4 linked regions of the Homo sapiens genome follow. The protein of the gene in region 2 purifies or fractionates together with the protein of the main gene of each other region. This does not show direct contact. Each region holds a gene or a part of one and is shown on either strand. Other genes may lie near its edges.

The links.
Region 1: the proteins of IGSF8 (region 2) and TBRG4 purify together in Homo sapiens (affinity purification with mass spectrometry; 4 studies listed by BioGRID and IntAct, with this or other methods). This does not show direct contact.
Region 3: the proteins of IGSF8 (region 2) and GHITM purify together in Homo sapiens (co-immunoprecipitation; 2 studies listed by BioGRID and IntAct, with this or other methods). This does not show direct contact.
Region 4: the proteins of IGSF8 (region 2) and DAGLB purify together in Homo sapiens (affinity purification with mass spectrometry; 4 studies listed by BioGRID and IntAct, with this or other methods). This does not show direct contact.

Annotation. Positions count from the first base shown.
Region 1 is NC_000007.14:45,108,191-45,115,633, reverse strand, and holds the start of TBRG4 (FAST kinase domain-containing protein 4), read left to right. Parts: upstream 1-3,936; 5' UTR 3,937-3,964; coding exon of another isoform or gene 3,965-3,991; intron 3,992-6,346; 5' UTR 6,347-6,390; coding exon of another isoform or gene 6,391-6,396; coding exon 6,397-6,807; intron 6,808-7,443. UniProt on the Homo sapiens protein: Plays a role in processing of mitochondrial RNA precursors and in stabilization of a subset of mature mitochondrial RNA species, such as MT-CO1, MT-CO2, MT-CYB, MT-CO3, MT-ND3, MT-ND5 and MT-ATP8/6. May play a role in cell cycle progression.
Region 2 is NC_000001.11:160,095,223-160,102,665, forward strand, and holds the start of IGSF8 (immunoglobulin superfamily member 8 precursor), read right to left. Parts: upstream 3,398-7,443; 5' UTR 3,251-3,397; coding exon 3,187-3,250; intron 2,570-3,186; exon of another isoform or gene 199-2,569; intron 25-198; coding exon 1-24. UniProt on the Homo sapiens protein: Member of the immunoglobulin superfamily (IgSF) that links tetraspanin-enriched microdomains to the actin cytoskeleton and plays several important roles in innate and adaptive immunity.
Region 3 is NC_000010.11:84,134,541-84,142,829, reverse strand, and holds the start of GHITM (growth hormone-inducible transmembrane protein), read right to left. Parts: upstream 3,322-8,289; 5' UTR 3,237-3,321; intron 1,369-3,236; 5' UTR 1,330-1,368; coding exon 1,201-1,329; intron 176-1,200; coding exon 76-175; intron 1-75. UniProt on the Homo sapiens protein: Plays an important role in maintenance of mitochondrial morphology and in mediating either calcium or potassium/proton antiport. Mediates proton-dependent calcium efflux from mitochondrion.
Region 4 is NC_000007.14:6,444,590-6,451,948, forward strand, and holds the start of DAGLB (diacylglycerol lipase-beta), read right to left. Parts: upstream 3,366-7,359; 5' UTR 3,254-3,365; coding exon 3,159-3,253; intron 1,516-3,158; coding exon 1,364-1,515; intron 1-1,363.

The sequences.
Region 1 (7,443 bases), on a different chromosome or scaffold from region 2:
ACTAAAAATACAAAAAATTAGCCGGGCATGGTGGCGTGTGCCTATAGTCCCAGCTACTCGGGAGGCTGAGGCAGGAGAACGGCATGAACCCAGGAAGCGGAGCTTGCAGTGAGCCGAGATAGCGCCACTGCACTCCAGCCTGGGCGACAGAGCGAATCTCCATCTCAAAAAAAAAAAAAAAAAAAGTCTTAGGGCCAGGTTCCAAAGGAAACTGTTCCTCTAATCACAACACTTCTGGAAGAATCTCAAGCATCAGAGCTTCTGTTCCCATGGGGTTTGGGAGGTGACACCTTCCCAGCATGTGGATGCATTCACCAACTTGGAAGCTCTCTGAACCCCATTGTTTAATAAGTTTTTATGAAGTTTCATTACCTAGGTATAATTGATAAAATCATTGGCCATTAGTAATGACAGTCAAAAGAAATGTTTTTATATGAGGAATATGAGCTTCCTCTAAATTATCAGGCCCAAAAAAAGGCATGAGAAAGAGACAGCAGTCACATCTCACTTCCTCCCTCTTGCTGAATAATCATCTTTTGAAGCTGCTTGCTATGTGGACTCTAGACTGACTGCCCCCCAAGTAGCTATAAATTAACCTAACAATACTGCATGCTGCACAACATAACTCATACCCTATCATTCAACAATGTATAGCCATCACTAATCAATGTTATTTCTGTAAACCAATGAGAATTCCTGACAAACAACTTTTTATCTGCCCCATGCCTAGTCCCCTTTTTTACCTTTAAAAACCTGCTTGTAACAAAGGCTTAATGAAGCTCATATCCCAGGTTACTTGCATGTGAGTCTTCTGGGCAGCTGTCTTCATTTTGGTTCAAATGTAAACTCTCCACTTTTATTAATTTTGCCTCCGTTTCTTCTTTTAGATAAACTGTAATCAAATCAATCTCCAGCCTCTCTCCTCTCTCTGGAGGTTGAGAGGTGGGGCTAAAAGTTTCAGCCCTCTAATCACATGGTTGGTTTCTCTGATAACCAGCTCCCATCTTCCAAAAGCCACTTCATTAGTGGCATAAACTCAGGTATGGTTAAAAGGGGCTTATGATGAATAACAAAAGATGTCACTATCATTCAAGAAGTTACAAGTGTTTTACAAATGCCCATCAATGATAGCCTGGATAAAGAAAATGTGGTACATATACACCATGGACTACTATGCAACCATAAAAAGGAATGAGATCATGTCCTTTGCAGGGACACAGATGGCGCTGAAAGCCATTATCCTTGGCAAACTAACACAGGAACAGAAAACCAAACACTGCATGTTCTCACTTATAGGTGGGAGCTGAACAATGAGAACACATGGACACAGGGAGGGGTACAACACACACTGGGGTCTGTCCATGGGACAGGGGGAAGGGAGAGCACCAGGATAAGTAGCCAATGCATGCAGGGCTTAATACCTAGGTGATGAGTTGATAGGTGCAGCAAACCACCACGGCACACGTTTACCTATATAACAAACCTGCACGTCCTGCACATGTATCCTGGAACTTTAAATTAAATTAAAATACACATACACAAATGAAAAACATCAGGATAGCAATTAGCTGGGGTGGAGGGATAAGAAAGAAGAGGAAACTCTCAGAAAATTGCAACAATATTGGTAATATTCTATTTCTTAAGTGGAGTAATGGGTTCACGGGTTTCTTTTCATAATTCTGCTTTGTAACTTGAGCATATTTAAATTTATATATACACTATATATATTATGTATATGTAGCAAACATTTTATAAATACAAATGATATTATCTTTATAAAATGCCTTAATGAAAACCTAAAGAAAAAAGTTACAAGGGTTTTAGAAGCTCTATGCAGAGACCACATATATATTTCTTAAGTCACAGGTGGCTTTTAGTATACTCAGTGTTGTGCAACCATCCCTATTATCCAATTCCAGGACACTTTTACCATCTCAAAAAGAAACCTCAAACCCATCAGAAGTCACTCCCTATTCTCCCCACCTCAACATCACATAGGTGACTCTATCAATTCACCTACTCTGGACATTGCAAATATAAATGGAACTATACAATATGTGGCCTCATGTGTCTAACTTCTTTCCCTTAGCATGTTTTCAAGGTTCTTTCCTCAACAAAACTCCATTAGTTTGTCTAAAGCTTTTCTTTTAACAGATCTATAAATCTGTTGTAATATTGTCTTTTGACAGACAACTTGTGAAGGATTTGGAGTAGAATTTGTGATAAATACATGGAATCTTAATTAACTGTTAACAGAAAAATCAAACTCTGTAAATTACTTAAAGAGGTTTATTCAGGGCCAATGAGTGACCACAGCCCCAGGAAAATACAAACCCAAAAAGCCTTAAGTGTTCCCGAGGCAGTCAGATTATAGTTTGGTTTTATACATTTCAGGGAGCCAGGGGTTACAGGCAAAGACATAAATCAATGTGTGGAAGGTATACACTGGTTTGGCTCCAAAAGACAGGATGTCTTGATGTGGGGGGTTTACAAGTTATATGTGGACTCAAATACATAGATATATACACGATATATGATTGATTGATAGATAGATAGATAGATCTCTTGGTAGGGGTAGATAGGGTCTCCCTATGTTGCCCAGGCTAGTCTTGAACTCTTGGCCTCAAGTGATCCTCCCACCTCAGCCAGCTTGACCAAGAGATTTTTTAATTTGCAACTGGTTAAAAGAGTGAGGCTCTGTGTAAAATTTGGAGTCAGCAGAAAAGAATGTTTAAGATAGTATGCCAGAATCAGCCACAATACACTGGGTCAAAAAAGACCTCTTCAGCAAGATTGATGGTCTGCAAGCTTGACTTAACCCTTGCCTTGCACGGCCTTAGGTCTTGTTTATAATTTGGTATCTTACTACCACAAAGTCTGTTAGTCTTATGATCTCTACTTTAACAAGGGGTGTTCAACCTCCCTTTCCAGAATGGCTGGGAACTCAGTTTTTAAGGTTTCTCTGGGGTCTCCTTGGCTAAGAGGAGGTCCGTTCAGTGCTTGGGGGGCTTACAATTTTATTTTTAGTTTACAAACACAAACAAACGTAATTATTTATTTTTATGTTTTTTGTTTTGTTTTTTGCGACAGAGTCTTGCTCTGTCAACCAGGCTGAGTGCAGTGGCAAGATCGCTGCTCACTGCAACCTCCACCTCCCGGATTCAAGCGATTCTCATGCCTCAGCCTCCCTAGTAGCTGGGACTACAGGTGCGCCCTACCACGCCCGGCTAATTTTTTTGTATTTTTAGTAGAGACGGGGTTTCGCCATGTTGGCCAAGCTGGTCTCGAACTCCTGAACTCAAGTGATCCGCCCACCGAGGCCTGGGATTACAGGCGTGAGCCACCGTGCGTAGCCAAGTAATTATTAACTCCACAGAAAATAAAAGGCTGTGCAGGAAGTAAAAATTAATCAAGTCCATATATAGACCTCAGATACATTTCGTTTGGGCTATCCTGCACTTTACTTTGTAATTAAACACCACTATTTAAAAATCAGGAAAATTGCACATAAAAATCCAGCTGCAAGTGGGCGCTCTGGAGTTCCCCAGTCTCCACTCACTCGTCCTCCCAGCCCCCACAGGCCTCAACGTCGCCTATCCCACTCCACCAGCCCAGTCTTCCACCGCCCTAGGAACTCTCCTACGCCTACGCAAGCAGGGAGGGATAGGGTGACAGCACCGACAACAAAGGGTCGTCTCCCGCACTCCGTATGAGGATGGCGTACTGGTCGGGGGGCAACCGAAGCCTTTCTTCCTAGGTTCTTTATCTTTTCTAAGTTTCCCATGACCTATCGCTCCGCTTGAGCCCTCAGCAAAGATGTCACCCGCCGAAAGGTGTGGCCGGAAGCTGGAGGCGTGGCTTCCGGACGTGCGGGGCGAGGCTCGTCTCGTTTCCGCCGGCGCTCCGAGTGACGTAGGGAAGCGCGCCGCGCACCTCATGGTTCCGGGGACAGTTAGGGCGGCGGATGGAGGTCAGCGGTGGTGCTCGCTGCGTAGGTCTTGTGGCACGGGGAGAAGGGGCGGCTGATCGTGGGTTTCGAGTGCACAACACAGGCGTGGCTGGGAAGGTCCTGGGATGCGGTGGAACTGGGGAGCAGGCTGGGACGCGGTGGGATGCCGTGGGCCTGGCCGTCTGCTCGTTCCGTGCTGGCTTGCCAGTGCGCACGCTTCCTCTCTAGCCCGCGCGGCCAGGCCTGGAAGACGCCGCCCCTGTTGACCGTCCATGACCCCAGCGAGCCAGTTTTCGTGACTTAGTGCAAGTTGTTTTCTCTCTGCATTTTAGAACTAAAGTTTTGGATTGCTGTTTGCCTAAACTCAAGTCTGGCTCCTGGGCTTCCGTTTACTCGGCTAAACTGCTCTTAGGGCTCTTAAAAAATTGGAAAGGCGGCCGGGCGCGGTGGCTCACTCCGGTAATCCCAGCACTTTGGGAGGCCGAGACGGGTGGATCACTTGAGGTCATGGTGAAACCCTGTCTCTACTAAAAATACAAAAATTAGCCAGGTGTGGTGGCGCGGGCCTGTAGTCCCAGCTATTTGGGAGGCTGAGGCAGGAGAATCGCTTGAATCCGGGAGGCTGAGGTTGCAGTGACTCGAGATCGCAGCATTGCACTCCAGTCTGGGCGACAGAGCGAGACTCCGTCTCAAAAAAATAAGTCGGAAAGATTTCTACACTGTGCTTAGGCTCAGGAAGTGGTAGATGTTGCGTTTGGGCAAATACTCCGACTCTCTGATCTCTCTCTCTTTTTTTTTTTCTTTAAGTGGAGTTAGACTAAGCTTTTTACAGCTGCTTTAATCCCCTCATATAAAAAGAAAATGTGCTGGCCATATACCAAGTTCCAGGAAGTGGAGAAAGATCAAACGTACATTCTGCTTTGGCAGAAATGAGGCCTAGGTGAACGTTTTATCTTGCCCTTGTCGCATGTCTTCCCTGGATCATGTAATCACCGTAGGGAGCTAGACTAGCTGATAGAATTTTTTTTCTTTTTTTTTTTTTTTGTGACAGAGTCTCGCTCTGCCACCCAGGCTGGAGTGCAGTGGCGCGATCTCGGCTCACTTCAAGCTCTGCCTCACCCTCCCTAGTAGCTGGGACTACAGGTGCCCGCCACCACGCCCGGCTAATTTTTTTGTATTTTTAGTAGAGACGGTGTTTCACCGTGTTAGCCAGGATGGTCTCGATCTCCTGACCTCGTGATCTGCCCGCCTCAGCCTCCCAAAGTACTGGGATTACAGGCGTGAGCCACTGCGCCTGGCCGATAGAATTGTTAAAAGCAACATCAAGGCTATATGTAACACATTGCTGGAGATGGCAACATTGAGTTTGGCCTTGGAAGGATGAGATGTATTTTAAAGGGTCTTATAGGGGGAGGAGGAGACCCAGATAACAAGCCCTGTAAGGTGAAGTGGAAGTGCAAGGCCTGTTTAAAATGGGGCCTTGTGTTGCTGGGAGGCAGAAAAAGCTAAGACTGAGAAAATCATTCTGGGCCATGTTATGAAGTGCTTCTTATTATTGGTTCAGAATTTTTGCTGTTAGAAATTTGGTGGGGGGGTTTTAGTAGGCTAGTGATGTAATCTACCTTGGTTTCGAGAGGCTCACACCTATGTCTACAGTGTTAAAATATATCCACAGAGGCTTTGGGAATGTGAATTTTTTTTTTTTTTTTTTTTTGAGATGGAGTCTCTCACCCAGGCTGGAGTCCAGTGGTGCAATCTCAGCTCACTGCAATCTCCGCCTCTCAGGTTCAAGCAATTCTTGTGCCTTAGCCTCCCAAGTAGCTGGGATTACAGGCGTGCACCATGATGCCCAGCTAATTTTTATATTTTTAGTAAAGATGGGGTTTCACCATGTTGGCCAGGCTGGTCTCAAACTCCTGACCTCAAGTGATCCACCCGCCTAGGCCTCCCAAAGTGCTGGGATTACAGGCGTGAGCCACCACGCCTGGCCAAGCCCGTAATTTTTAATCCTGGTTACCCTTGAAATAAAAAAATAAAAAAAAATTAATGCTGTCTAGGTCGTGTCTGCAGAGATGCCATCATTTAGGAGGCCTTGGGCAGGACCTGGGAATCTGAATTATTGAACCACATCCTAGGTGATTTCAAATTACAAGCAGGATGGAAACCCTCCCACCCAGGCTGTAATGTTCCTGAGTTTTGATATTTGATGGCATTCTGTACTGAAACAAAAATCCTGTGAGACTTTTGCTTTAGAAAATACTATCACATACCTATGGATTGTCAAGAAAGACTTAGTCTGATTTTACAGATAGAGTGGCTTTGACTATTTCATTTCTCAAGTTTGTGAGTCAGGAACTGCCCCTGTAGTAGCCCCTTCTCTCTCCTTTTTCTCTTCAGGGTTTGGAATCACTTGCTAGGAGTCTTGTCTCTCTGCCACCCAGGACATCATGGCAGCTCACCTGGTAAAGCGATGCACGTGCCTCCTGAGAGAAGCTGCTCGTCAGGCCCCTGCCATGGCTCCAGTTGGCCGACTGAGACTTGCCTGGGTAGCCCATAAGACTCTGACTTCCTCAGCCACCTCACCCATTTCCCACCTCCCAGGTTCCTTGATGGAGCCGGTGGAGAAGGAACGAGCATCTACTCCCTACATAGAGAAGCAGGTGGACCACCTCATCAAGAAGGCCACAAGGCCAGAGGAGCTCCTGGAGCTACTTGGTGGCAGTCACGACTTGGACAGCAATCAAGCAGCAATGGTACTTATCCGGCTCTCTCACTTGCTGTCTGAGAAGCCAGAAGATAAAGGCTTGCTCATACAGGATGCCCACTTTCATCAACTTCTCTGTCTGCTCAACAGTCAGGTGGGTGCCGGAGTGTGGTCTGAGAGCATAGACAAGAGGAAAACAGCCAGAAATGCTGGGGTCCACAGCAGCCAGTGCTTACCAAGCATAGACAGGGGCCTTGCATCTCTTGTGATATTTTTTATTTTTTTATAAATTTCAAAGTGCTTTATCGTGCTTTCTCTTTGTTTATCCTTACAAGAGGCCTGTTAGGTAAATATTGCTATGCTCGTCTTACAGACAGCCAAGACGCATAGTGATAGAAGCATGGGAAGTGAGCCTGGTTCTTCTCAGTTCTTTGGGTGCTTTCCCCCTCACCATATAGTCTTGACTTGTATTGCTCTCTGCCAGTGTCTGGCTGATGGCAAGGCACTGTTTTTGAAGCCAAAGGAGATGCAGCATGACTGATGGAAGGTCCTTGAAACTTGAGACAGACGTGGGCATGATCTAGCCATGTTCAGACCCTCCAAGGATGACCATGGAGAGAAGCAACAAGACCCATTTGTGTGGCACTGAGCAGGGCAGAACTCAGACTACAGAAGCCAGTTCCTGCTCACTGTGAGGGACTCCCTTCTTAGAGAGTCTTCCCCTGGGCTCCATGTACAAAAAAAGGAGTACAGACTCCTGCTGTGGCTGAACTGGCCCTAAATCCCTGGT
Region 2 (7,443 bases):
CCTCCCGGGCCCAGCATCCCATTCCTGTAGGGAAAGGCAGAAGGAGTTGGAGATGCCTGGTTCCTCATTCCATGCCCTCTGCCGCCACAAGCACCATTCTTGATCTCTGCCTACAAAAGGAAAGGAGACCTGGGAAAGCTTGTCCACAGCTTGGACCCTGTTCTGAGAATAGGAAAGGGATGCTGTGATATAAGACACCTGGATCTCAAGGAGGTGGCATGGGCCCAGGATTGCCTTGGCATCCAGATGCATCCCATTTCTGGCGGACTAGAAGCAGAGCACCTGAAGGCAGAAAGGAGTACATCTGATTCCTGACCTAACCAGGCCTTGGTTCCAACTGAACCTTGATCTGTCCCTGCCACTCACCCACCTCCATGTCTGCCATTCCTTCCTCAGCACCTGGCAAGGGGAGCCTTCTGGCTAGGGGACTCTGAGACTACATGTCCCTCTCCTTTGCTTGAGGGGAGCTGGCAGTCTTGCTCAGAAGTGCTAGTTGGCTCAGCTGTGTCACCTGGGCGAGACAATGGAGCCAGTGACCCTAGCTGGAAAGGGCACAGGCCCAGTCAGTTCTCACCACACAATGCCCTCCCCTCTCCAGCTGCGCCATGAGCTCACTGCTTCTCTCACCCCACAGGGCTGCCCAGGCAGCTGGGGCTTCTGGGGCAAGATCCAGGCTCTGCCCTGGCCATTGGGGGCAGAAGATCCCCTCCTCCAGTGCCTGCCAACCTTCCGGGCTAGCCCAGCAGATACAGAAGGTGCCTGCCCCAGTTCCTTAACAAAAGCCTTCATTTGCACATGGTATGCATTCATTTACATATATGGCTCTCTTTCTGTAGGGAGGCACTAAATCCCCAGCTGCCCCTTCTCATCTCTCTCCCTTCAGAAAGGCCAAACCTCTCTTCTTCACCCTACTCCACCCCTATGCCCAACCCTACCCCAGCAGATACTCCTGGCAGACTTAGAGGGCTTAGCTCCTCCCTTCTTTCCTTCCATAGCTCCCACTAGATAAGATCACAGAACCTCAATGTAAAGAGGGCTAGGCCACCCCTCCCCACCTCTCCCAATTTTACAGATGAGAAAGGTAAGGCAGGAAAAGTATAATATGTTAGCCAAGATCATGCTGTCCCTAGATGGCTTCCACACACTCCTCCAGAGGGGCAAAACCAGAGAGGAAGATGGGGAAACTCCAAGGCCAGGCCTGAAGGGACTGACCTCACCAACCAGAGTGTCACTTTTAGGCCTCCCAGGGGGATACCATGGACTTTCTGCAGGAGCTAGAGGAAAATGCCCAGGAGTCTGTGGTCAAACTCTACCCTCCAGCTTCTCTAGAACGGCTCCTCTGAACTTCCCCACCCCTGCTTCTGGGCTCCTAGCCCCTTCCTTCATCCTCTGGCTGGGTCACAGGGAGAACTCATGGTCTGTTGTTAAGGGCACAGCTGCCAGTCAGGAAGTGGGATTCCAGCACCATCCCCATGCCCAGCTGTGTGGCCTGGGATCCAGTCTCTTTCTGTCCTAGGCCTCAGTTTCCACACTGGAGGAGAACTAAGAGCTCCAGCTCTGACCATGTGTGAGTGCGTATGTGACTCAGGAGAGCCCTGCCCCAGGCCAGGCAAGTTTCATAATCAGAGTGACGGTGGAGACAGCCAAGCTGACACCTTCCCTGACTGCCTCAGGGCAGACTGCTCAGAAGGCCCCCTCCCATTTTCCTGGCTCCACAACTGCTGATGCTTGGAGATGCCCATGGGAAAGTCACCTCCACAGCCTTAGGAAATCAGTTGCCACACAGCTCTCTCTCCCCTCCTCTGTATCAGTCGCAGCAAGGAAAGGGACAGCAAAGAGGCCTGCTTTGGAATCAGATCTGTGTTCAAATCCTAGCCCCAACACTCACTAAATGTGCTCTCTGGGGCAAGTTACTTCATTTTCCTCATTTGTGAAATGAATGTAAGTGCCCACAGGCAGTGGGTGCTCAGACCTCTGCGTGCTCCTTTTTCAAACACAGGCCAGCACTTCCCCACCTCCCTGGGCTCCTCCCTGCTCCATGCTGCCCACTGGGGAAAACACACCAAGTGCTAGGCAACCCAGGCCCCACAGCGCCTTCCTCTCTGTACATCCTCCTGCCACCTGCCCAGGGACCAGGGAGAGGACTCATCCTAACCCTGCAGGGCCCAGGGACCTGCAGCAGGGGAAGGCTTTGCTTGGTGCCACTGTGGAGCTCTGGTCTAGAAACAGGCAGCTGGGGCTACCTTCAGCCTCTGCCTTGACGACAGCAGCTCTGAAGTCACCATCCCCACCCCCACGCTTCACTCTCATTTCAAGGGCTTCAGCCTCATCAACATCTGTACTGGCAGTTTCACTGTCTCCATGCCATACTCTTCCCCAGACCACCTCCTACAGGGAGCCCTCCAGTTCAGGCCAAAAACAATTCCACTGTCATTATCCCCATGCATCCATGCAAGATTGGCCCAGAACACCCCACCATGAACACCCACCACAGCAGGCACAAGGTGCTTGGAGATCCCAGGATCAGTCTCCATGGAACCTGGTTTCTCCTGAGGCAAGGAAGCTGGAACTAAGCGGTGTGAAAACTGATGGGTGGCTGCAGAGCCAAGTGCCATTTGGGAGACAGGAAGAAGGGCAAAGAGGGACCCAACCCAGGGTGGAGATGGGGGTGAGAGAGGGAACTGCCCCCAGTTGATGAAGTGCGTGGAGCGCAACTGGGAGAGACTTACTTCAAAGATCGTGGGCAGAACTGGCCTCTGGGCCTCCAGCCAACTCTGGGGCAATTATGAAGCTGGGCAGGCACTGCCCTCGTAGGGCGGGCACCCAAGGCCAGGCCTGGAGCTGAGTGTGGGGCAGAAAGGAGTCGCAGCATTTGGTGCAGCGACCCCAGTACGTGGGTATGCTAGCTGAGATGTGTGGCCTGCCCCGGGAGGCCGAGCAGTGCCTGGGGCAGCACCTTAGTGGGTCCTCTCTACGCCCCAGTCCCTGGCTTAGAGCTGGGGAGCCTGCACTCTTCCCAAGACTGGCTCGGCGGACAGCCACAAAGCGCAGCTGGACGCCGACCCCGGGGAGGCTGGAGGTACCCCTGACGGAGGAGGATGTGAGGAGCCCCGAAATGCTAGGGGGGTGCTGGATGGCAGGCACCTGCCCGGCAGGGCCGGGAACCGGAACGGGGGCCTGGCTTACCTAGCATTAGCAGCAGCAGCAGCGGCAGCGAAGGCGGCAGCAGCGTGGGCCTGAGGGCGCCCATCCTGCGCGGCCAGCTCTGGGGAGGCTCCGGGGGATGGCGCGGGTTCTGGGGGGCCGGAAGGGTGGGGGGCGCATGCCCAGGTTGAGGGCAGGAAGCGGGGCAGCGAGGCGTGGGTGCGCCGAGCGAGCTGAACTGGAGCTGCCGAATCCCCTCCCTCCGCCCCTCCCGCTGCTTTCCCTCCAGCCCTCGGCAGTTCTGAAACCATTCTCGCCCCGGCCCGCCCCGGCACCGCCCCTTCCACCGCCCCGTCTAGGCCCGCCCCGCCCCGGACCCAGCCTTGGCCCTGCCTGCCCCACCCCCGCCAGACTCCGGCCTTTGCTCCGCACCTGGCCCCGGCCCCGCCCCGCCCCTCGAAACTCACCTTTGAGTCGCATCGAGTCCCAGCCCCGCCCCGGCCCCGCCCCTCCCCGCCCCGCCCCGCCAAGACTCCAGCCCTGGATCCGCCCCGGGCCTCGGCCCAGCCCCAGTTCCGGCCCCTCCCCCGCCCCGCCCCACCAGGACTACAGTCGGACTCCAATCCTGGCTCCTCCCCGGGCCCCGGCCCCGCCCCAGTCCCAAGCCGCACCCCTTCCCCGTCCCCGCAGGGCTAACGTCAGCCTCCAATCCTGGCTCCGCCCTGGACCCCGGCCTCGCCCCGCCCCTGGCCCTGGCTCCGCCCGAGGCCCCCGCAGGAGTGAGCTAACTGCACCTCTGCGCATCGAAATTCCCACCCACCCTCGCACAGAGCGCATTCCACCCCGCACCTGCCAGCCTTTCCTGGAGAGTTGGGTGCAGGGTCCCTGGGATTGGCGAGGTGACTGTGACCACGCATTTAGAATTCAGTTATTTGCTCTGAGCCATAGTCCTCGCTGCAAACCCTGCTGAAGTAGGGGTTGGCGGAAGCCAGGAGTTCCTGAATGCGAAGGGTTTGAGCTGAAGGGCGCTTCCAGGATCCAGAAGGTCACTGGAGACCTGTTTTTCACCCCCTCAGAGGGCAAAACCAAAAGAAAAATGGATTAGGAGAGGGGGCCGTCCATGTGACGTCATTTCTGGGTTGGGTGATCCTAGCCCAGTTGTTTAACCTCCTTCAACTTCAGTTTTCTCCTCTGCAAATTGAATTGAGGTTGATCACATCACCCAAAGGGTTATTGTGATGATAGGTAATGTACATAAAGTGTTTGGCACAGGAAACTAACACAAAATGGGAGATAAGGATTATTTTGTTTTAGGTTTTGAATTATTATTTGAACTGCTTCCTAAGAGGCTTAGTTTAGACCTGGCATTTAGGTGAAGGAGTCTCTATGTTCAGTGACAGTGGGAAGAGATGAACATTGCTCTGTTCTAGGAAGAGTGGGGCTTGCCCTGGAGGTGGGAGAATGGAGGAGGCACCCTTCCCAGGTGCTCTGTCTCTTCCTGAACTGTAAAGATGGGAAGTGGGCAGGGGCAGGAAGGATGAGACCAGAATGGGGAGAAGAGATGGCCAGGTTTGCAAAGCCAAGGCTGTCAGAGTGGCTGTCAGTGGGAGGTGACCCCAGAGCCCATTTACCACCCTCTACCCTCCAACATCCTCCCTCTCCCCTCTCATCCCCCTTCCCTCCCACTCACTCACCCCCCTTTACAGAAGAGGAAACTGAGGCCCAGAGAGGGTAAGTGGCACAGGCCAGACCAGACCTTCCTTGACATGGTATTCCTCAAGCGTGGCACAGTGCCTGACTCTGAGAAGATGCTCACGGGGTTGCCAGTAGAAGCCACATTGAGGAACCCTGGAGAAACCAGAGAAACTGAGGCCTTGAAGGGAGATCAGAGGTCCAGCCCTCACTTCCCAGGACTGCCAGCACTGGCCCATGAACAGGGCAATAAGGTGCCTGTTTATTCCCACTTTGAAATATCCAGAAGGTTGCTCCAGAACCTCATCATCTAAATCCATCCACAGGCATATCGAGCTATGTGAAAACTGAAACTCATAGGGGAAGCTTTTGGAAGAATACGTCTCTCCCTTTATAATGGATTTAATTATCGAGTGGATTTAATGCCTTCATGATGCTTGAGGGATGAAAGATGTTACCAATTGTAATAATGATAGATGTCATTTATGAAATGCTTACACAAGAAGGCCCTTTTGGATATTAGTCCTAGTCCTTATAGCATATTTTGCAAGGTGGTGTCATTTAACAGAAGAGAAACTTGAGGTTAGGCAGGTTAAGTACCTTGCCCAAGGCCACACAGTTTTTAAGTGGCTTAGGGGTGACTTCAGCCCAGGCTTGTCTGTCTGTCCCCAAAGCCCCAAATCTTCCTACACCTCACTGTCCCTCCTCCCAAGCCTCTCCACCCTGTAAACTCAGTCATTCAACAAATATTGATTGGGCCAGGCCTTGTACTGGGCACTGGAGATGCCATGGTAAACAAGGTGGGCCTGCTCCCCTGCCCTCAGGGAACATAGTTCTATATGTTAGGGATACATTTCATAAACAAGTCATAACCAACCCCCAGTATGAGTATGATGAGAGGGGTCTTCAGGGAGGTGAGGTATCCTCTCTTACCCTGTGGCCTGGGGCTGGGAAGGAGCTGGGGGCAGGTTGGCGTTGAGAACTGGGTTGGTGTCTCCCTCCAGAGGGGATAAGGCCCAAGGAGAGAACAGTGTCTTCAGCAGGCCCCTCTGGAACCCAGGCCCCTCTGGAACCCAGACTGCGGGTTCCAGAGGCGGCCAGCAGAGGGAGCCCACAGCCCAGGCCTGACGGACCCCTCAGCTGCTTATGTAACTGGGAAAGCTGGGGGAGGAGAACAAACCCCAGGCACGAGGCACGTCACACACACAGACACATGTCCCCACTGTAATGGAGCGGGGATCAGACAGAAAGACGGCTCCCAGAAACACACCCCCACAGAGCCATGGGCAAACACACACAAGCTGCAAAACAGCGATGCATGGTGTAGATTGGAGGGCACTCATCTCATCCATTAAAAACACACACCTAGGCTGGTGCCCGAGGGTGGGGTGAGCAGAGAAAGGAGGAAGGAAGCCCTTCAGTGAGTTTCCAGGCCAGACTGAGACACGAAGGAGGAGGGAGCCTGGGTTTGCAGAGAGACCTGGCAGGTATGCAGTAGTGACCATGAGGGACCCTGATGCCCGGCTGGGCTGTGTTGTCACTGCCATCACCAGCTTCCCACCTGCCCTCCATGTACTACCCCAGGCATGGGCCTGCATCCGACACCCGTCCTGTTTCACATGAAACAGGTCTCATTTCACCTCAAGATGACATATACACAAGACACCAAGGTGACACTGAGGTGTCATGAGTATTGTTAAAGATAATTGAGACCCACGCTCTGCCCAAAAGCAGTTTATAATCCAGCTGAGATGTGACACACCACAGTCACAACCAAGCAGACAGCTCTCAGAGAGGAGCACGTTCAAAGACAGGACCATTCACATATGCTGACCTGTGTCAGGCACTAAATGTGATCTCATTTATCCTCATGTGCTATTATTATCCCTGTGAGAAAACTGAGGCATAGAAAAGTTAAGAAACTTGTCCAAGGTTAATGCATTAGTTACTGTCCACACAGGGATTCGAAATGGATCGCCTCACTGTGGAGCCTGTGCTTCTAACTCCTGTTATGTTGCTGCTTAAAGACAAACGTCACTAGGGACACAGTTAAATATGGGCTTAGCACACATGAGTATACACCAAGCTGTAGACACAGATACTGCCGTGGGGACAAAGTGACAAATACATCAAATACATAAGCACACATGCTCGTCAGACTGTCAGACATATAGAAATGGCACAAGCATACACATAGGACTCAGCTCTCTCTCTTTTAAATGTGTATCAACCGTAGCTTTGTGGGGAGCTAAGGATCACACACAAGAATGTCCTGTGATTTGTGTGTGTTTATAAAGCATTGGCCCATACTGCCCTGATGAGCTATATTTTCCCACCCTCCCAGAAGGGAAGATTCTCTCTGCTGAGTTGCTGAGAGGCTCAAGCAGAGTCAGAGACAGAAGTAGTGCAGAAACCTACCCTCGCCCTGATAACAAACTCATTCAGAGACACACTGAAACAGAAGTGCACACACAAAGATAAACACAGAGACATTATGCACACCCAAACACCAAACACACTCACAGAACCACAAAGCCATCTCCCCCCCGACACACACACACACATTCGCTTTCCACCCTCTCCCTCCCCTCTTTTCTCCCTGAGCCA
Region 3 (8,289 bases), on a different chromosome or scaffold from region 2:
TTTTAGGAAGTTGTTCATGGACCTCTTAAAACATATCCATAGATTCTAGGTTAAAAACTAAAGATAGCCACCTACTTTTAAATATTTTTTCCATCGATGGTTCCAATGCTGCCTCTTTGAGTTCTTGGCCAGTTCTCCCACGCCGGATCCCAATTCTTGTTTTGGTGGCATATTCCTGACACACATGCAAACAAAGACACGTACCACCCACATGAAAACAGAACGTTAATAAAATAAAATGCAAGATCCCTTTACACTAGAAAACTCTAGTTAAAGAAACTTGGTACTTTCTATATACCTAACTTCACTATGGAAATTTATTAGCCAACTTAAAAAACTAAATGTAAAAATAAATAAATAAATGTAGACCTTCCCTGTGCTCCACCTTTGGAAGTTAGTAATTCATTATATTATTCTTAGTTTCAATTTCAGAAAAATTGTTTCTTTCACAAACTATAGATTTACATACCTAGAATTGTTATATTTTAAATCCTAACCAAATACCAGGGTGAGAATCTGTTAGCATTTTTAAGATATGCATTCTACAAGCATTATTAGCTATATTTTGTCATCTGGGATATGGACTCAAGAACAGCATCTTTCCTTAACATGAAGCCAAGAAGAGGGAAGACTACTACTTCCATTGTGGCTCTTTTTCAACAGTGGAACAGTTAATTTAAAAGAGAAAATGTCTCCTAGCTTCTTTATATTGTCCTCATTACCTCACACTTCAAACCTTATAATCTGAATGCCAGAAGATAAATCTATTATAAAAATGGGTTTCTTTCTAACCTGACAGATATTATCAACCTCTAAATAAGAGATAATATATTTAGTAATTTATTAATAAGCTATTGGCCAACTGGTAATATCCCTGGGTTCTTAAACTTCTGACTATGTGCTCCAGGATCTCCGTTACACTATGTAACTCTCAATCCCTCACAATGTACTCTAAATTTTCTAAATGAGAAACTCCAGAAGCTGTAAGCGAAGACAGAGTTACAGAAACTCATTTTCTATTTCATATGGGATAAGGAGGGACCAGAATGATACAAACTAATGGGGAGAAAGAGCTGATTGGGGATATTATCAGGGCTAACTGACGTATAACACACTAAAGGCAGAGCAGCCATACTCTGCCAAAAAGAAAGGGCACAAATGGAAAAAGAAGCAATATAAAAACATTCAGATTATCTTTACCCTGCTAGGTGTTAACAGCCATTGATTCTTCGTGATGGAATTCTTCACAACAGGGGAGGCCTTGGTGAAAGCTGGGTGGAAAACCCTAGAAGGTAGTGTCCGGAGACACACCAGCCTTGCAGCCAACATGGTGGTGGTGCACCAGGTCTACCGAGCAGATCTGAAATGCTAGTTTAAAAAAAAGGCAAAACCAACCAAAAAAACATAAGTAAAACAACCTACTAACCAATTAAGAGAAGGACATATGAGAGTCAGAGTCAAGGAACAAACTATTTTTTAGTAGAACAGGAAATAAAGCGACCTTTTTAATTTTCAGCGATGAATTCTTTGCCCAACCATCCACTGTAATGCAAGAAACCCATCCCAGAGAACACAGCTGAAGATGGAGGAACAAACTAGGTTTAAGTCCCAGTTTGACCAATCAAAATAGATGACTGCAAAAATTATGTGTAACACAGAACGGCTGTTAATAACTGGACGTGATTACAGAGTCTGTGATGGTTTTTACAAATGTAGTTTTGGCTTAAGATTTATACCAGCATCCAGTGGGAAAATTTAAAAGAATCTACATAACTTTTGGGCAAAGGAATAGTGTCATCCAAAGAAGACATGAATAGCTCTTCAAGGTTATACTGCATTACAAAGCTAAAAGGTATTAAAAGAAGCCAACTATATGAATTTCAGCTAATCATACCAAATATTACTTTCCTTCAACATGAGATATAAAAATATTCTAAGTTAACCTATTCTATATGTCCTACTATAATGCGTAAAGGACATTTAGTCTTTCAAAGTAAACAAGTAAACTCAGTTACCAACCAGGTTTCCCTTACATTAGACTCCCTCGATGGTGTCTTCAAAAGAAAAGCATGCTAAAAACTGGATTATCTTAGCTCCAGGGCACATTATACTAGATGGGTGGTCAACCAGAAGTCAGCAGACAGTGTTTCTGTAATGCTAAGGTGAGGTGACTACAATAGGTCAGAATGAAATGACGAGTGTAAACCAACTGGGGCTACCAGCCCATCTCTGCCAATGATTTGTAGTGAATTCTAGGCAAGTGATATACTTCTGGGCCCATTTCCCCATCTGTAACATAAGGATTCCGTGTTCAGACTACAGCGTTGACCCTTAGACTACCTGCTTGAAAGTGCCCCGGATGCATCTTAAAATGTAGGCTCCTGGGTCTTTCTTTGCTCCTAATGATTCTACCCCTAGGAATAAGACCAAGAACGTGTGTTTTAACGAACACTCCAAAAGCTAAGAACTATTGCTTTAAGATACCCGAGCGTCCTCCGAGCTCTGCAACTGAACTATTAAGGGTCTTAAAATTCGGCACCCGGCCTTTGGGAAAACACCCAGCGCTTTTGGAACTTTCGTGCCATTACATCATCTCAACCTATGGCTGTCCTGTATCTTCCTCAGTACTCAGTCCACTGGTTGGGGCCGAAGAGGTCCAGCTCAGAGTGACCTCCATGTGGCGTAACAGCCCAGAGTGGGAATCCCGCTTCTGACAGGTTAGAAGTGACCTTGTGAGGAGTGTGGATCTCTAAGACTCAGATGTCGTTGCTATAAAATGGGGAAAATACTACCGACCCTAATCCAAGGGCTTATGCCTCCGTGAGCATTGATGAGTTTGGGTGCCTGGTCCCCGAGAAAGTTCACCCAGCCCGCTAGATTCAGATGAGAACCCGGCAGCAAACTTCCCTGTCAACCCACAACACCTCTGCCCCTGCCCCAGGTGCCGCTACCAGCGCAGCGGCTGTACGGCCTCGCCGCAAGGATGACTCAGCACCTTGTTGCCCGAGGACAGAAGCACAGCTACACTGAGCCCTTGCCCGCCTGACCAGGGCCTTGTGCCGCCGCCCTCTCCACCAGGTCACCCACAGGACTGCGACCCCAACGCGCAGGCCGGCCCTGACGCAGCCAGCAGCACCGCTGCTTCCAGCCCTTCCCCCCGCACCCAGCGGTCCCGTGAGGGCGGCTGTCAGGACCACCGGGGATCCCGGGCGCCCGCCGGCCAGCCGGAGCAGTACCTCGGTCCCCGGTCACCTTCGCCTCGCAGTTTCCCTTCCGGGCCCCTAGCGTCGGCCTCAAAGAGCACAGTTCCTCCGGCGCACTGCATGACGCAACATCGAAAGGACGTAAATAGTACGAGCAGCCAATCACGGGCAGGCCTCTGTCGGAAAAGCGGCCACACTGGGGGAGGCGGGGTTCCGGGTTGAGGAGGCGGGGTTCCAAATTGGTGGGGCGGGGCCAGTTGAGGATTGTTGCAGGGAACGTCATAGTCAGCGTCCATTTTGCGTGTGGGCATGGGAGTCGTCTCGGCCATCTTTGTTTTGGGCAGTGGAGCTCTGTTTTGCTTTTGTTTTAGTCGTTTCACTCGCCGCAGCTATAAGAATTATGTAAAAATTGAAAGAAAGTAATGTTAGAGTTAAAAATTATTCCGTTTATTCCGTTCCTTTTTGAAGGCCTTTTTGTCCCTTAATTTATCGTGAGATAAATATCTTTTCAAATGTGTCTGCTTCTGAGCCGAGTCATCCGGTTTCTGGGGTCTCATGCCAAATGTTAGATGGTGACATCCAGAAAAGATTTTTTCTAGATGGTTTTTTCATTGCTTTGTGACTTTCCCGCCCACATTTTCAAGTTTCACCCTAAACCTGTGTAATAGGCCTGATAACAGCCGCCTCTGCCTTGCACCCAGGATTGCTCTGAGGACTAAGATGTTTCCATTGCGCGTAATTTGATAGGTGAAGAGCTAGTTGTGGAATACGCGAGAGAGTTACTTTCTTTTTCACTCTCCCTCTATTTCAACAGATATTTACTGAATGCTCAACTTCGTACCAAGCTCTGTTCTAGAAATATATACAAATGAATCAGCCGGGCGTGGTGGCTCAAGCCTGTAATCCCAGTACTTTGGGAGGCCGCGGCGGGTGGATCACTTGAGGTTAGGAGTTCGAGACCAGCCTGGCCAACGTGGGGAAACCCTGTCTCTACTAAAAATACAAAAATTTGCCAGGCGTGATTGGTGCCTGTAATCTAAGCTACTTGGGAAGCTAAGGCAGGAGAATCACTTGAACCCAGGAGGCGGAGGTTCCAGTGAGCCCAGATCCCGCAACTGCACTCCAGCCTGGGCGATAGAGGGAGACTCAGTCTCAAAAAAAAAAGAAACCAAAAAAACAAAAACAAAAAAACAGCAAATGAATTAAACCCGTGTGTGCTACCACTATTTTAACAAAATAAAGTCCTTGCTCTGTGGCTTTACTTTCTGGTAGAGACAGAACATAGAAAAAATATAATGTGATAACTTAATACCATGAAGAAAGAGCAGATTAAAACCCTGAAAGGGTGATAAGGTGATTAACAACATGCAAAATTCATGAACCTTTATCTCCTAAGCAGTAGTTAATTGTGATTTATGATTCCTAATCATGTAAACCTTGACAAATATAAAGACTTGCCTTCTATGTGGATAATAAAAGAGTCTGGCAGCAACACAATTCTTATCTCTTTACGCTGAAAATGGCAGGAAAACACTAGAGAAATCTCACGAAACTGAACAGATCAAGCATGATCAGTTTAATTTTTATTTTGATCTATGCCCAATTTTATTAGCTAGCAAATAGGTTTTCTGTTTGGCTCCTTCAGTGATAGTCTTTTTTTCTAGAGCTTCTGTTATCAGCAAAGAGAAAGGATTTACAACACAGTACCAGAATAAAGATCTTGAAGTCAATGACTCAAGCTTTCTTCAAGATTCCTATTAAAGCTTATTCTCTCCATATTGGAAGAAAAATGTCTGATTTCATATTTTCCTTTCTCAAGTAAAGGGCTTGTATTGTTGTTTCCACAGGGGTCAAATATTTTGAAGCAGGGGAGGAATCTGGTCATATCATTGGGAAATATATGCTCTTGTGGCAGTGTAGGAAGGGAGAGGTTCCATGGACCAGGAGACCAATTAGGAATTTATTGTAGTTGTTCAACCAAAAGGCAATAAAGGCTGGAATTAAGCCAGTAGAAAGACACAGAGGGGTTTATGACAGAGATATATTGCTGAAGTGGAGTTTGCAGGATTGAATGGTCGGTCAAATATAGCTGATAAGAATGAGGAAGGCTCCCTGAGTAATCCTTCTGAACTGGGTGGATAATTTTATCATTAATTTAGCAATAGGATACAGGGAGAGATACAAGTGAGGGGAAGTAGATACATAAAACTTAGTTTGAAGTGTTTAATTGTTAAGTTCTCTGCTTCTAAGTTCTTAGAGTGTAGGATAGAGAAAAGGACAAGCCGGGAATGGTGGCACATGCATGTAGTCCCAGTTACTGGGGAGGTAGCCCAGGAGCTTAAGGCCGGCCTGGGCAACATAGGGTGATGCTGTCTTTAAAAATAAATAAGTAGGCTGTGTGTGGTGGCTCACGCCTGTAATCCCAGCACTTTGGGAGGCCGAGGCGGGTAGATCACAAGGTCAGGAGATTGAGACCATCCTGGCTAACATGGTGAAACCCCGTCTCTACTAAAAATACCAAAAAAAAAAAAAAAAAAAAAAAAAATTAGCAGAGCATGGCGGTGGGCACCTGTAGTCCCAGCTGCTCGGGAGGCTGAGGCAGGAGAATGGCATGAACCCAGGAGGTGGAGCTTGCAGTGAGCCGAGATCGTGCCACTGCATTCCAGCCTGGGCAACAGAGCGAGACTCCACTTCAAAAAAATAAAAAATAAAAAATAAAAGAATAAATAAGTAAATAAAAAGGAAAAGACATGATTCGTAAATTCCAATACTATATATATGTCACGGTTTTTATTACAGTCTGCTGATGAATTCCTTATTCTCCACTTGCTGGCTAAGTGAGATATGCTGCATTATAGTGGAGAAAACTCAGAGCCAGGACAAAAGATAAAATATTTTATTTACTTTCAGTTAAAATAAATGCTCTCACCTTGCCCTACTATGCTTTCCCATCAGAAGATGTGGTATGAATGAAACAGAGTTGGAAAGGGAGTTTGCTGGGGCTTTAACCTCTGCCCTCCCTGATGGAGTCTCCCAACAAAGGGAAGGTGCTTCTTCCTGAAAGGTTGCAGATGTTTCTGAATGTAGGGACCAATTGGCACCTGCTTCTCATGTGGTTGCTAAGTGGCAGACAACAGAGCAGGTAGGAAAGTTACAAGATCTTCCCCATCTTGGCCTTGTTTTCCCTTGGAATCCCTAAGGTCTAGATAAACACAAGAATGTGATTGTGAGCACGCACCTGCTTGTTTGCACCCTTCGAGATGCTGCTCAGTAGTGAGGCGACACTAGAAGTATGTGTGGGTGAGATGCCCAGATGGGCACCAACAGACCATTTAGTGTATGACAAGGCAGAGCCATTTGACTCTGCTTGGGTGAGAGATCAAACTGTGCCAACTTCAAAAGTTATATCCTGCCAGCCACAGAAAGACAATGAAGCCATGGGGACTACTCCCTTTAGATTTTGCTGAACGGCAGCTGCATGACAATGCAATGACTAAGAGGTAGAGTGGAAGGACAGAGAAGCTACACTTTTTCCCCTCCTGTTTAATGTAAATGTTTCTAATCCAGTTGTGGCCCAGGAGAGGAGAAAGGACTTTGAACTCCAATGTGACTGATGGTAATAAATCCTGAAACTGACAGACAAATTGTCAGACTGTTCTGAGCTTGCAAAATGGAATAAATAGGCTGTCTGCTCTAAACTGACTGGGGCCTTGAAAATGACATCGATGGCAGTTTAAAGAAAAATGTAGCTCAATTTTGCATTCACCTAACTGACAATATATACCCCTCACATATGTGCAACTAAATGCTGTAAGTGGGCCAAAGGACAAGGTCATTAGTGGGGTAGTATCTGTGGAGGGACAGATATTGGCAGAAAATTGAGACTAGTGTCATGCTTTCTGGTCAGTCTTCCAAGAGGAAACCAACACTCAGAAATTGTAGTAGCTTTTCTTAAGAAAAAGGTATTAGGTTGTTCTTGCACTGCTATAAAGAAATACCCGAGGCTGGGTATTTTATAAGAAAAGAGGTTTAATTGGCCCATGATTCTGCAGGCTATACAGGAAGCATAGTGGCATCTGATTCTGGGGAGGCTTCAGGAAGCTTCCAATCATGGCAGAAGGCAAAGAGGGGCAGGTACATCACATGGCAAAAGGAAGAGCAAGAGAGAGAGAGTTGGCGGGGAAGGGCCAAACACTTTTAAATGACCAGATCTCCTGAGAACTCACTATCTCAAGGACAGCACCAAGGGGATAGTGCTAATCCATTCAAGAGAAATCCACTCCCATGATCCAGTCACTTCTGTCCAGGCCCCTCCTCCAATAACGGGAATTATAGTTCAACATGAGATTTGGGTGGGGACAAATATACAAACTATATCAAAAACATAGCAAGGTAAATGGTAGATCTGGGTCTAGAACATGCGATGGAGGCAAAAGCTGGTGCTTGAGGGATTAAAAAAAATCTCTCTTTTAATATATAATGCATGGATATGCAGACAGCACATGTGCTAGTAAAGCTATGACATTAAGATGTCATGGGGGAGGGAATCAGGCAAAAGCATCTGAAATGAATTCCTAGGGAAGCAATAATAAAAAAAGGCTGAGGAGCACTGGCCTAGAATACAGGATTTCTGTGATTCACTCTGATATCAGGCTCATCAGAAAAATTTTTGGTGTTACCCTCTATGACTCTATCAGTGAGTTGTTATTTGAGGTGATTTTGTGATCTTGAAGGAAATGAAAATATTTCACCCCCAAATATATTTTCTTGACATTGTTCAAGATGACTATTCAGAAAGGCTGGAAATAAAATAATAGCTAAAAAGCTGTCTTTTGTGGGAGAGATTAGCATTTGTAGAAAAAGTCTGCATTGATAAAGTCCTGCATTCTCCGAAGGTCTTCTCTTGTCTGATCTAGGAAAGACTGAGAGTCCGGCACCATAAAGGTCTGAAAGAAACATTTACCATCTTTCTCTCTGAAGGCTACTACCTATGAAGTTACATCTGCATAACAGGATCGCTGTTGCTAGCCAACCCTCCTCTTCTCTCTCTCCCATAACCTGTCTTGCCGCTGTAACCTGACTTACC
Region 4 (7,359 bases), on a different chromosome or scaffold from region 2:
AGACTCTATCTCAAAAAATAAAAATAAAAAATAAAAGGATCAATAGCCTAGTCTAAAATTGGGCAAAAGATCTGAACAGACATTTCCGCAAAAATGATACACAAATGAGCAATAAGCAAATGAAAGGATGCTCAACATCATTAGTCACCAAAGAAATGTTCCTCAAAGCCATGAGACAAAAAACAAATGGCCTGTGGCCCCAGCTATTCGGGAGGCTGAGGCAGGAGAATCACTTGAACCCGGGAGGCAGAGGTTACAGTGAGCCGAGATTGCGCCATGGCACTCCAGCCTGGGTGACAGAGTGTGACTCCGTCTCAAAAAAACAAAACAAAACACAACAAAACAAAATCATGAGCTACCACTTCACATTCACTAGGATGGCTATAATTAACAAGTCATATAATAAGAGCGTTGGGCAATTAGAACCCTTATACACTGCTGGTGGGAATGTAAAATGGTACAGCTGCTTGGAAAAGTCTGGCAGTTCCTCAAAAGGTTTCACAGAGCATTAACACATGATCCAGCAATTCACTCCTAGGTACACACTCAAGAGAAATGAAAACATGTCTGTATAAACACTTGTATGCGAATGTTCATAGCTGCACTATTCGTAATAGGTGAAAAATGGAAACAATCCAAATGCCTACCAAATGGCAAAGGGATAAATAAAATGTGGTCCATTCATTCGATGCTCTTATTCAGCCATCAAAATGAAGTACTGATACATGCTAAAACATCGATGAATCTTGAAGACATTATGCTAAGCTTAAGAAACCAGACCAAAAGGCCACACAGTGAATAAATTCCACTTATATGATGTCCACAATAGGCAAATGTACACAGACAGAAAGCAAATTAGTGAATGCTTAGGGTTGGGAGAGTTTGGGGAAAATGAGGAGTGACTGCTAATGGGTATGGGATCTCTTTCTTTCCGTTTTGTGACAGAGTCTCCACTCTGTCACTCAGGCTGGAGTACGGTGGCATGATCTCAGCTCCCTAGCAGCTGGGATTACAAGCATGCACCAACATAATTTTCTCTATTTTTAGTAGAGACGTAGAGATGGGGTTCCACTGTGTTGGCCAGGCTAGTCTCATGCTCCTGGCCTCAAGTGATCCACCCACCTCGGCTTCCCAAAGTGCTGGGATTACAGGTGTGAGCCACTGTGTCCCGCCTGGTACAGGATTTCTTTCAGGAGTGAAGAAAATGGTATAAACTTGATGATGGTGATGGCTGCACAACTCTGTGATTATATTAAAAACTGTTGAATTGGAAAGTTTACAGAAGTGAATTGTATGGTATGTGAATTATATCTCAATAAAGCTATAAAAAAATAGGTATCAAATAGAAAAGGCTACTTTTTACCTCTCATGCTGACACACATGATGGCTGACACAGTACATATGACAACTGCCAGGAGAATCATGAGGACGATCAAGTAACTGCTGAGCAAGGCTCCACCAGCACAGTCCAGCTTTCCTCTGTGCATGAGATACAACGTCAGAATGCCAATCCACCTGGCAAAAAAAAAAAAGGGAAGGGTCAGAAATGAAATCCAAGGAGCTGCTGTGTAGAACATGATACAAAGAAATAAAAGGGGACAGGGCGCGGTGGCTCACACCTGTAATCACAGCACTTTGGGAGGGTGAGGTGGGCGGATCACAAGGTCAGGAGATCGAGACCATCCTGATCAACATGGTGAAACCCTGTCTCTACGAAAAATACAAAAAAAAAAAAAAAAATAGCTGGGCGTAGTGGTGCGCACCTGTAGTCCCAGCTACTCGAGAGGCTGAGACAGGAGAATTGCTTGAACCTGGGACGTGGAGGTGGCAGTGAGCCGAGATCGTGTCACTGCACTCCAGCCTGGGCAACGATATGAGACTCCGTCTCAAAAAAAAAAAAAAAAAAAAAAAAAAAAAAAAAGAAATAAAAGGAGTTAATATTTTCCAAAACAAGGCAAGGTTCACTTTGGAATATAATTTTCTTTTTGTAGAGACAGGGTCTTGCTATGTTGCCCAGACTGGTCTTGAACTCCTGGCTTCAAGTGATCTTCCTGCCTTGGCCTCCCAAAGTGCTGGGATTACAGGCATGAATCACTGCACCTGGCCTGGAATATAATTGCCAACAATAAAAGATCTAGGCCCGGCACGGCGGCTCACGTCTGTAATCCTAGCACTTTGGGAGGCCAAGGCAGGAGGATCACTTGAGCACAAGAGTTGGACACTAGCCTGGGCAACACGGTGAGACTCCATCTCTACAAAAAATAGAAAAAGTTAGCTGGGCGTGGTGGCACGAGTCTGTGGTCCCAGCTACTTGGAAGAGTGAAGTGGGAAGATCGCTTGAGCCCAGGAGGTTGAGGCTGCAGTGAGTGGTGATCGCACCACTGCACTCCCGCCTGGGTAGCAGAGTGAGACCCTGTCTCAAAAAAATAAAAAGAAAAGGGGTCTCACTATGTTGCCCAGGTTGGTCTCAAACTCCTGCCCTCAAGCAATCCTCCCGTCTCAGCCTCTCAATGTGCTGAGATAACAGGCGTGAGCCATGGCGCCCAGCCAAGAATCTACTTTTGCATAACAATGATTCATTCCCTGCACAGATCCTCTGGGAACAGACTTCAGGTACCAATGCCACTTCCCACTGATTCCACACTTTGAAAGACAACAGCGTTGTATGTTGAGCCTGTCTGCTTCTCACGAAATGCAGCCACAACCGGCTCGGTATTTTTTCCTATCCTTCGTGTTGCAGATTCAAGTGCCCCGTACAAAGGGAAGGAAGGGCACAAGTGGCTGCTCCCGCCTCAAGAAAGGAGAACTCGAGGCCAAGGCTTTTGCCGGCGGTAACACCCTCGTGGCACCCCAGGGCCAGGTCTCGGCGCTGCACACAAAGGGGTGCTCGCGTCCTGCTGCGCGGACTTCGAAACCCCCTGTTTGTCCCCCGGGGTCAGCCCACACACTCTGGGGGCTTCGGTTTGTCATCCGTCAAATGGACACAGCACCACTGCCCACCTCTTCGGGCAGTGGTGAGAACTCGATAAGAGGATGCGTGGCCAGCGCTGGGACCGCGACAGTGCTTGGGAAGCCACTTCTGTCACCGTCTCAAGGGACAGCTCGCCCCCCGCTCCCTCTCCGGTGGGCTCCACCGCCCCCGTAGCCGCCGTCCTTACCACAGCACTCGCACGACCAGCTCGAAGAACCCTGGGAAGACCAAGTCGTCGCTGGCGATGGCCCAGCGCCGGCCGAAGAGTACCATCCCCGGCATGGCGAAGGTCCCGTAGCTCGCACTCAGGAGAGACCCCGCGCGCCGTTCACCGAGAACAAACCAGCACCCTCCGGACGCCGCCACCAAATTATCGGCGCTCAAGCGCAAACGCAGCGAGGGCGGGGACCTGCGCATGCTCACGCTGAGGCCGAGATCGGCGCAAGCGCACTGAGCCCTACACCGCCTCTTCCGCCGGAGCTGTCTGCGCCTGCGCAGAAACGCTGATCCGGAAGGCGCTGGCTGAGTCGATTGCAGGTCTGCCGGTCGGTGAAATCCGTTCTGGTATTTTCTTTTTCTTTTTCGTGAAGAGTGCAGTGATATCCGTTCTGGTGATATTTCCTTTTCCTTTTTTTTTTTTTTTTTTTTTTTTTTTTTTTTTTTTTTTTGGTGACGGAGTCTCGCTCTGTTCCCAGGCTGGAGTGCAGTGGGTGTGATCTCGGCTCACTGCATCCTCCGCCTCCCGGGCTCAAGCGATTCACCTGTCTCAGGCTCCGGTGTAGCTGTGATTACAGGAGCGCGCCACCACGGCTAATTTTTGTATTTTTAGTAGAGACGAAGTTTCACCATGTTGGCCAGGCTGGTCTCGAACCCCTGACCTCAAGTGATCCGCCCGCCTGGGCCTCTCAAAGTGCTAGGATTACAGGCGTGAACCACTGCGCCCGGCCCTGTTTGTCTGTTTGTTTAAGGCAGCGTATGGCTCTGTCGTTCAGGGTGGAGTGCAGTGGCGCAATCATGACTCACTGCAGCCTTGAACTCCTGAATGCCGCCTTGAATTCCTGGATTCCAGCGACTCTCCCACCTCAACCTCCTGAGTAGCTGAGACCAAAGGCACGTGCCACACTCCCGGCTAATTTATTTTTATTTATTTATTTATTTATTTATTTATTTATTTAGAGACATAGTTTTGCTCTTGTTGCCCCAGGCTGGAGTGCAATGGCGCGATCTTGGTTCACCACAACCTCCATCTCCTGGGTTCAAGCGATTCTCCTGCCTCAGCCTCCTGAGTAGCTGGGATTACAGGCATGTGTCACCATGCCCAGCTAATTTTGTATTTTTAGTAGAGATGGGGTTTCTCCATAAATTTTCCTATTTTTTGTAGAGACCGGAGTCTCACTCTGTTGCCCAGGCCGGTCTTGAACTCCTGGCCTCAAACCATCCTCCCGCCGCAGCCTCCCAAAGTGCTGGTATTACAGGCGTGAGCCACTACACCTGACCGAAATTTTCATTTTATAAGGAGGGACGCTTCAGGCCTGGAGGAATTAGCTAGCCTAGAGACCCAGGCTGTCAATGGCAGGTGTGGGACTCATATCCCGTTCTGTGAGACTTGCAAGCATGGGACAACATTGCTTCCATCTGTGCCCCTTGCTGTAAGGAGCCCGTGTTAGGAACCCCTCGAGTTCAGGGTCTGAAACCACCCTGCAGCTGGCGGGGTGGAGTCTGAGCGCTTTTCAGTACCCCCACTGCCCCACCCTGGTCTGAGCCACCTTCATCTCCTGCCTGGGCTCATCACCCCACTGTGCTTTCTCATTCTGCTGTGCCCTCTTCAGCAGCCAGGGTGACTTTGTGAACCTTCAGATAAAGCCTGCACCCTGCCTGGGACTTTGCAAGGCTGCACTTTGTGCATAAAATTACATTGCAGGCCAGGCGCGGTGCCTCACGCCTGTAATCCCAACACTTTGGGAGGCTAAGGTGGGCGAATCACGAGGTCAGGAGGAGATCGAGACCATCTTAGCCAACATGGTGAAACCTCGTCTCTACTAAAATTTAAAAAAAAAGTTAGCCAAGTGTGGTGGCACGCACCTGTAGTCCTGGCTACTTGGGAGGCTGAGGCAGGGGAATCGCTTGAACCTGGGAGGCAGAGGTTGCAGTGAGCCAAGATCGCGCCCTGCACTCTAGCCTGGCAACAGAGCAAGACTCCGTCTCAAAAAAAAAAAAAAAATTACACTCCAGCCCCTGGCAAAGGCCTTTCCCTGGTAGTCACACATCAAAAGTTTGTAAGGGCTCATTTATCTGTCTCCCTGGTTACTATTTGCCTCTATCACCCACCCCACTGCCTGCCGCCTTTTCCCCCTCTGAAAAGACATCAGGGTCATTTTTGCTCCAGGGGTTCTACATTCTGTGTTTCCTCTGCCAGGAATAGCCCCCCTGCAGGTTTTCTGTTACTGGATGGAAAGTCTTGGCTGTGAGTTGGTCAGGGGCTTGCGTGTTGAACCGAGAATTGCAACACAAGGCCGGGCACGGTGACTCACGCCTGTAATCTCAGCACTTTGGGGAGGCCGAGGCGGGTGGATCACCTGAGGTCAGGGGTTCAAGACCAGCCTGGCCAACACGGCGAAACCCTGTCTCTACTGAAAATACAAAAACTAGGCCAGGCACGGTGGCTCATGCCTGTAATCCCAACACTTTGGGAGGCTGAGGCAGGAGGATCACCTGAAGTCAGGAGTTCAAGACCAGCCTGGCCAACATGGCGAAACCCCGTCTCTCCTAAAAATTAGCTGGATGTGGTGGCACATGCCTGTAATTCCAGCTACTCCGGAGGCTGAGGCAGGGGAATCGCTTGAACCTGGGAGGCGGAGGTTGCAGTGAGCCAAGATCGCGCCCTGCACTCTAGCCTGGCAACAGAGCAAGACTCCGTCTCAAAAAAAAAAAAAAAATTACACTCCAGCCCCTGGCAAAGGCCTTTCCCTGGTAGTCACACATCAAAAGTTTGTAAGGGCTCATTTATCTGTCTCCCTGGTTACTATTTGCCTCTATCACCCACCCCACTGCCTGCCGCCTTTTCCCCCTCTGAAAAGACATCAGGGTCATTTTTGCTCCAGGGGTTCTACATTCTGTGTTTCCTCTGCCAGGAAGAGTCCTCCTGCAGGTTTTCTGTTACTGGATGGAAAGTCTTGGCTGTGAGTTGGTCAGGGGCTTGCGCGTTGAACCGAGAATTGCAACACAAGGCCGGGCACGGTGACTCACCCCTATAATCTCAGCACTTTGGGGAGGCCGAGGCGGGTGGATCACCTGAGGTCAGGGGTTCAAGACCAGCCTGGCCAACATGGCGAAACCCTGTCTCTACTGAAAATACAAAAACTAGGCCAGGCACGGTGGCTCATGCCTGTAATCCCAACACTTTGGGAGGCTGAGGCAGGAGGATCACTTGAAGTCAGGAGTTCAAGACCAGCCTGGCCAACATGGCGAAACCCCGTCTCTCCTAAAAATTAGCTGGATGTGGTGGCACATGCCTGTAATCCCAGCTACTCGGGAGGCTGAGGCAGGAGAATTGCTTGAACCCGGGAGATGGAGGTTGCAGTGACCCAAAATCACACCACTGCACTCCAGCCTGGGCAACAAGAGCAAAACTCCATCTCAAAAATAATAAATAAATAAAAATTGCAACAAAAACCCCACAAAGCAACAACGACAACAACAAAAAACAAATCAACAAAAGACAAACAAATGGCGTAAAAAGCACAGATTGATTGACACGAAGTTCAAGAGACCACACAGCTCAAGAGACCCCTCAATTAGGGTCTTCATTAAGCAGAAAGAATGTGGTTAACACTCATGGCTGAAGTGGAAACTTCTGTCTTGTTATCACAGAAGTGCAGATGTGGCCTCTATGCTGCCTTATCTTGCCCAGAACTGGCTGCACCTGCTGATCTTTTGCTTATGCCTTAACCCTTGTTAACCATTGATTACCCTCATTCCTGATTCTCCTGCCTCATTTCCTTTTTTTTTTTTTTTGAGATGGAGTCTTGTTCTGTGGCCTAGGTGGGAATGCCATGGCGCGATCTGAGTTCTGCAACCTCAGCCTTCTGAGTTCAAGCGATTCTCCTGCCTCAGCATTCTGAGTAGCTGGGATTATAGGCATATGCCACCATGCACAGCTAATTTTTGTATTTTTAGTAGAGACAGGGTTTTGCCATGTTGGCCTTGGCTGGTCTCGAACTCCTGACCTCAAGTGATCCGCCCACCTCAGCTTCCCAAAGTACTGGGATTACAGGCGTGAGCCACCGCACCCAGCCTCTCCTGCCTCTTTTTTTGTTTTTGTTTTTTTTGTTTTTTTTGAGACGGAGTCTCGCTCTGTCGCCAGGCTGGAGTGTAGGGCGCGATCTCGG